2 linked regions of the Homo sapiens genome follow. The protein of the gene in region 2 purifies or fractionates together with the protein of the main gene of each other region. This does not show direct contact. Each region holds a gene or a part of one and is shown on either strand. Other genes may lie near its edges.

Region 1 (3,524 bases), on a different chromosome or scaffold from region 2:
TCAGGAGTTTGAGACCAGCCTGGCCAACATGGTGAAACCCCGTCTCTACTAAAAACACAAAAATTAGCTGGGTGTGGGGGAAGGTGGGGGGGAACCTGTAATCCCAGCTACTCGGGACACCAAGGCACGAGAATCATTTGAACCGGGAGGCAGAGGTTGCAGTGAGCCGAGATCATGCCACTGCACTCCAGCCTGGGTGACAGAGTGAGACTCTGTCTTTAAAAAAAAAAAAAAAAGAAAAAAAAAGGGTTATATCAGAAAGGAACTAAACTACCTAGACCCTTCAGTGCCAATGGAATAGATACCTCCATACTGTACAAAATGAAAAGGAGTATCCTGTGGTAGAAAAAGAACGTTGCCAACCTACCTTTAAGAGAAATGTAGAGGTGGTTTTTTGTGCTCAACCATCCACAAGTACAATCAGTGAATAACTAACAAAAGAGCACTTGAACTCCAGTGCAAGATAAGGCACTTTGTTTTTAATTCTATCAGTCTCTTTAGAATGAACGAAGGTCTGGGTCCTCTGGAAATCTCAAGTGGTGCTGCCTGCAGCTTTAAAAGGCTGAGCACAAACCCATCAGAGAGCCACAGTCCTAAGTAGACTCCTCGGTGCGCTCTGCCCACCTGTCCATGTGCATTCAGATTTCTCATTAAATTTTCCACAGCATGACCAGTGGGGATGACCTGGGTGGCCTTTGTGTCCATGGCCACAGCCTAGGTACCCACCTACATGGGACAAAGAGGAAAGGACAAAAATCAACCATTAGCGTGGAGGCCAGCAGTTACCATTATCATGGAAATTAGACCTCCTGGCAACATGCAGATTCATGGGAGTGAAAATATCTAAGAAAATCTTGGCAAGAGGAACAAGCTGTCTGACTGTTGTGCAGTCAGGAGGACCCTGAGAATTGATCACAGCAAATCAACTCATGTTAGCCGGAGTTCTAAGAATGCTGTAGTGATAGAACTTACCACCTGAAGGAGGCGAACTAGTTTGCACATTAACTGTAAAATAAATTGGTTTGGATTTTAACTGTAAAATCATTGAAATAAAAAAGGATAGGTTGGTGGACATTAAAAAAATAGAGGTAGATCCTCAAGTGTTTATACAGAAGGATGCAAAAGCCCATTTTATGGCCCATTATTAGAGTAAGGACACAATAATTTTTTTTTAAAGTAATTAGATCCCTAACCTAAACTGACTCCCTATCCTTTCTGTCCCCCGAAAGACCCAGACCTTGTTCAATTGGTTTAATCATCCACTCCCCTAGCCATGCCTCATTTGGAATTTATTTAAGGTTCTAAAAGGAATAAGATGGGTCCATAGTTTTCACACTGCTTAGGCCGCTGGAAAGGGACAGACAAACTGAGAATCCTACATAGAAGCACAGGGCTCATAGGAGCTGTACCAAAACTAACAGAACTGAGAGCTTTTAAGTCTGCTATTTCAATTCAGAACAAGGAAGCTTTAAGTGACACTTTTAGAACAGTGGTGTCTCTACAATCACAGACTGTGCTTCCTAGAAACAGAGCCTAAGTCCAAATGTCTAGTGGCTGTGTGGTAGGGAAGGGCCCGTCGCTTGATTCCCACTGCTGGCAGAAAGGCCCAGAGGGTAGTGCTTTCTCCTTACCTGGCATGGTGCCTCCACAGGCGCAGCGAGCGGTTTTCTGGCCCCCGCTGGAGCAGAAGGTGCAGCAGTGAAACACGCCTGAGTGTGGGCGGTGCTTTCTCCTCACCATCACAGTGAATGGCGAGCCCTGCAGTGTTCAGACCAAAAGCAATGAACAGCATCTTACGAGTTAACAGGATGTGCTGCGCATCACTATGTGCTAAACAGAGTCTGAGGCACAGGGCCTGTCCTTGGATGGACAAGGACAACAGGAAAGAAACAGATTAGAGGACAAGAACCCTGCTCAGCTGAGAGGAGGCAGACACAGATGCAGTGGAAGCATCACAGGGTCTATGCAGCCCTCCTACCATGCTTTTCACCGCAGATGCTAAGTACTAGACGTAGGTACTGATTTATTCCATGTAGCTGAACCTGCTGGACACTGAAAGGAGTCACACAGTCAGCTCCATTTTCAGTGACATCTGTATTAGCTGGGAATAATTGTTCTGGCAAGATGGCAGCAAAAGCAGAAGCCCATGCCACAATAAGCTTAAGCTTTTCTTGATGGATTCTGCCTCACTCTATCCTTGTATGAAGTATAAGTACCTAGATCATTCAATACATTAGTAATCTCAGACTGACTTTTCTCTGGGATTCTCAATCTCAATTCTTAAGGAACCTCAGGTATAATAAGTAGAATGTCACAACCACAAAGATAGGACATTCTGTGGTCCCTTCTCCAATTTCTCAGCCATGTACCTCTTCTCACATACCAAGCTAGCCTCTTTCCTTCCATCCTGGACATGACTTATCTGTTTACTCACCCACTTATTCTGGGACTGTAAAGACATATGGAAGGGAGAAAGGTTAAAATGTGTACAGCTAATAATTCTCAAATTAGTAACTCTCCCATCTGCCCCCTTTCCTTTAAGGATAACTTTCGTTCTCTAATTTATATCCCATGTTAAACAAAAAATATTTATTTATTTTTTTAAAGATGGGATCTCACTCTGTCACCAGGCGGGAGTGCACTGGCACATCCATAGCTCACTGCAGCCTTGAGCTCCTGGGCTCAGGCAATCCTCCCAAGTAGCTGGGACTACAGGTGCACACCATCATGCCCAATTTAAATATTTAATAAGTTGCAATGTGCCTATCCTTATGTGAGAGCCACATTGTTTGCGAAAACGCAAAACAGAGAACCTAGCACCTTAGAAGTCTTTCAGATGTTAAATTTCCCATCTTAAAGAGTTTACAATCCAGTTAAAAAACAACTTGGCATTCAAAGAAATGGGTTCAAATTCCTATTTTGCTACATTTGCTGTGTATTTTAATGCAAGTTTGGTGTCTCAGTCTAATTGGACACTGATCCCTGTGCCTGAAGGGTTTTGAGGCAAATTGAAATAATGTATGTAAAAACACCTAACCTGTTCCTGACATACCATAATTAGGTAAACAATAAATGGCTATTAAATATGAATGTTCCTTAGTGCACAAATCATAAGCCTAATATATCATGATGCTATATGGTATTTTACTGTCCCTGTCAGTGTTGATTTCTGTGGAGGGAAACCTCTGACTACTCCAATGTCAGCAGAGAGATTCTGCTCGACCTGTTAGTATCACCCAATTTTTAAAAACTCATACTCTCTAAAGCAGAAAGTGCTCTACTTGTGTTATACTTGTTTGTAGAAACCATGGTAACGTAACTTGTTTGGTATATTTGTTTGTTTATAGGAACCATAGTAACAGAAAAACCTATATGTAAAACAGAGTAGAAAATTACATGAGCAGATGGTTAGGCAGATAGATGACTAGTCAATTGTGAGGAGGGGGCATAACCCTCTCAACTGTGTTCATGTCCAGACACAGTCTGGACAAAACTGGAAAATCCTGAGCTAGATTATATTTTTT
Region 2 (3,524 bases):
CTAGGAAGAAAACACACCATGGTAATGGGACACAGCGTGATGGGCGGTGGGGGCCTCTAGATGAAGTGGTCAGAAAAGCAGACCTCTCTGGGGAGGTGACGTCTGAGCCAGACCTGAATGACTATGGGGCAGTGACCTTCTAGAAGGCAGAGAAGGAGGCTTCCAGGCAGAGGGAGCGGAACGTAAAAAGACCCTAAGATGGAAAAAAGCATGTCAGGTTTACGGAAGCACGAGAAGGCTGGTGTGGCCTCTCTAGTGAGCACAGGGGAAAGACGCTCCATGCCGTGTTTGCAAATATGTGTGCACGTATGTGCCTGGGGGGGAGGGCAGTGCAAGGCCTCTGGGCCATGGGAATGAGTTAATAACCAGTGAATTAAGTATTCTTCAGGTAACTGATAAATGTTGCCAATTATCCCCTATGTCTTAGATCTGCTTAGTATATTTTCATTTCCAGCGAGCTCACAAAAGTCTCCTATAACCAGGCAAATATACTTCCAAAGGTAGCTCCTTTTCTAGTCTGTCTCCTGCCACCAGCTGGAATGAAATTAATTATGAGGTTAAGCAGAAATACAAAAGCATCTACCCAGTCAGGAGTATCCCATGTCTTCCTCCTGAAAAGATGGCCAAAGAAGTCAATATTTAGCACCCCAAAGTGCCACAGGTGTTTTAAAGCATGGGAGGAAAAGATATTTCTATTTTCTAGAAGGCTGTGATTAAAAATGAGATTAAGATGAACTCATCCTCTCATATGAGATGAATAATATTAACACAAATGTGTCACCACAATGCAAAACCTGTCTTCGATGCTGTAATCACAGTTACCTCCTCTGCCAGTATCTAATTCCCATAAGGGACAGACACAGGCTTCCAAGGACTTGAATCTTTCTAAAAAAATCCATAGTTTCCCAGCCAAATAAATAAGACCCAAGCAACTTATGGGTCTGTTCCACATTAGACATACACTATTAAAAAAGGCCAGTGAGGCCAGGCACGGTGGATCAATCCTGTAATCCCAGCACTTTGGGAGGCCGAGGTGGGTGGATCACCAAGTCAGGAGTTCAAGACCAGCCTGGCCAATATGGTGAAACCCTGTCTCTACTAAAAATACAAAAATTAACCGGGTGTGGTGGCAAGCGCCTGTAGTCTCAGCTACTCGGAAGGCTGAGGCAGAAGAATTGCTTGAACCCAGGAGGTGGAGGTTGCAGAGAGCCGAGATCGCACACGCCACTGCACTCCAGCCTGGATGACAGAGCGAGACTCCGTCTCAAAAAACAAAAACAAAAACAAAAAACGCCAGTGAAATTGTCTTCCACAAGTAAAGAAAGAAACAAGCTCAAACAGGCAACTGAGGAACTTGCCACGTTGGTGTGTCATGGCACAAGAACAATTCATCTGAGAGCGTTTCACAACAGGAGACCAGGAGTAAGCTGATGATCTACTGACCACTGTATGCTGTGCTGTATTTGGCTGATGTGGGAATAACTAACTTTCCCAAATGAGAAAAACTGTGTGTCTGACGGCAATCAATCTACTGAGCACGTGCCTTGTTCATTAAGTACCCGTGAATAGTGTCTAGATATTTCAACACTGCTAAGTACTTTTTTAGGAAATCTGATTTTCATAATGTTGAGGCAGTAATATTTCTGGAATTTATTATTTTATAAACTGGCAAATGGTGTTTGGGTCAGTAAGTATGGACACTAGTGCTATTGTTTATCTAAGGAGTCTTGGTCCATTCTTGGTAAAAACACTCCAGAAAACAGAAACTGATGGCTCCTTTCTGAACATGCTACTCTGTATACTTCAGCCCTAATGCTGGCAACTTACTCAGTGGGGAACACTTCATTAAGATCAGGGCCATAGGGCTGGGCATGGTGGCCCACATCTGTAATCCCAGCACCTTGGGAGGCTGAGGCGGGCAGATCACGAGGTCAAGAGATTGAGACCATCCTGGCTAACATGGTGAAAACCCGTCTCTACTAAAAATACAAAAAATTAGGCTGGGCACGGTGGCTCACACCTGCAATCTGAGCACTTTAGGAGGCCGAGACCGGCGAATCACGAGGTCAGGAGATCGAGACCATCCTGGCTAACACAGCAAAACCCCGTCTCTACTAAAAATACAAAAAATTAGCCGGGCGTGGTGGCAGACGCCTGTAGTCCCATCTACTATCGGGAAGCTGAGGAAGGAGAATCGCTGGAACCCGGGAGGCAGAGCGTGCAGTGAGCCGAGATCACGCCACTGCACTCCAGCCTGGGAGACAGAGTGAGGCTCCCTCTCAAAAAAAAAAAACAAAACAACAACAAATGATCAGGGCCATAGCAAGGCTGCCCACTCTATTACTTCACACAGAACTGGAGGTGTTAGCCCAGGCAGTTAGACAGAGTAAAGAATGAGAGCATAAAAACCGGGAAAGAAGTCATTTCTATTTGCAGTTGATAGGACAGTACGCCTGGCAACCCTAAAGAATCAATGAAAAACTAATGCAAACAGAAAAAGAAATCAGTTAGGCGGCAGGATAGAAAATCAAAGTATGCAAATCAACAGCTTTCATATACCCAAGAGAAGATGAGCATCTAGCCTCTATGTAATGTAAAATAACAAAGTCCTTTTCCTGTGAGTTTCTACCATGTCTGTCTCCCCCAGCCAAACTACTATAGAAGGTTGTTTTAAATCTAAATTTATATCAGTCGAATTACATCTTAATGCATTCATCCCAGCCTTCCAGACTGTCGAAAGTTTTGAATTTTGCCCTTTGACAGATTAACAATCTCACTCAGCTGTGTATCTTGTACAGACAAGGCCTTCTACTCACTGTTCCAAACAATCTCTAAAAAACTGTGACCAGAGGCCGGGCGCAGTGGCTCACGCCTGTAATCCCAGCACTTTGGGAGGCCAAGGCGGGCAGATCATGAGGTCAAGAGATTGAGACCATCCTGGCTAACACGGTGAAACCCCGTCTCTACTAAAAATACAAAAAAATTAGGTGGGCGTGGTGGTGGGTGCCTGTAGTCCCAGCTACTCCAGAGGCGGAGGCAGGAGAATGGTGTGAACCCGGGAGGCAGAGCTTGCAGTGAGCCGAGATGGCGCCACTGCACTCCAGCCTGGGCGACACAGCAAGACTCCGTCTCAAAAATAAAAAATAAATTAAAAAAAAATAAAGAAAGAGTAAGAAAAAAATTACCCAAAGAGCATATGTAAAAGTACCCATGGTAAGGCAAAGCCTGTCCCTTTCTGTCTTTTTAAGTCCTATCTACCCTAAAGGCACTGCTCAAATCCAACTAGGGCCAGAGGCCCATGATTCCCAAACCTCAATCATCCACTGACCATCTTCAAGAAACTATCTTTCACTCAAATGATTCCTTTTTTTTTTTTTTTTTTTTTGGTGACAGTCTCACTCTGTCGCCCAGGCTGGAGTGCAGTGGCGCGATCTTGGCTCACTGCAAGCTCTGCCCCTCCAGGTTTAAGCAATTCTCTGCCTCAGCCTCTGGAGTAGCTGGGATTACAGGTGCGTGCCACCATG

The links.
Region 1: the proteins of TAB1 (region 2) and TRIM45 purify together in Homo sapiens (affinity purification with western blotting, with the first as the bait; one study listed by BioGRID). This does not show direct contact.

What each region holds. Positions count from the first base shown.
Region 1 is NC_000001.11:117,111,728-117,115,251, forward strand, and holds part of TRIM45 (E3 ubiquitin-protein ligase TRIM45), read right to left. Parts: intron 1,759-3,524; coding exon 1,632-1,758; intron 727-1,631; coding exon 578-726; 3' UTR 1-577. UniProt on the Homo sapiens protein: E3 ubiquitin-protein ligase that plays a role in the regulation of inflammatory response.
Region 2 is NC_000022.11:39,406,259-39,409,782, reverse strand, and holds part of TAB1 (TGF-beta-activated kinase 1 and MAP3K7-binding protein 1), read right to left. Parts: intron 1-3,524. UniProt on the Homo sapiens protein: Key adapter protein that plays an essential role in JNK and NF-kappa-B activation and proinflammatory cytokines production in response to stimulation with TLRs and cytokines.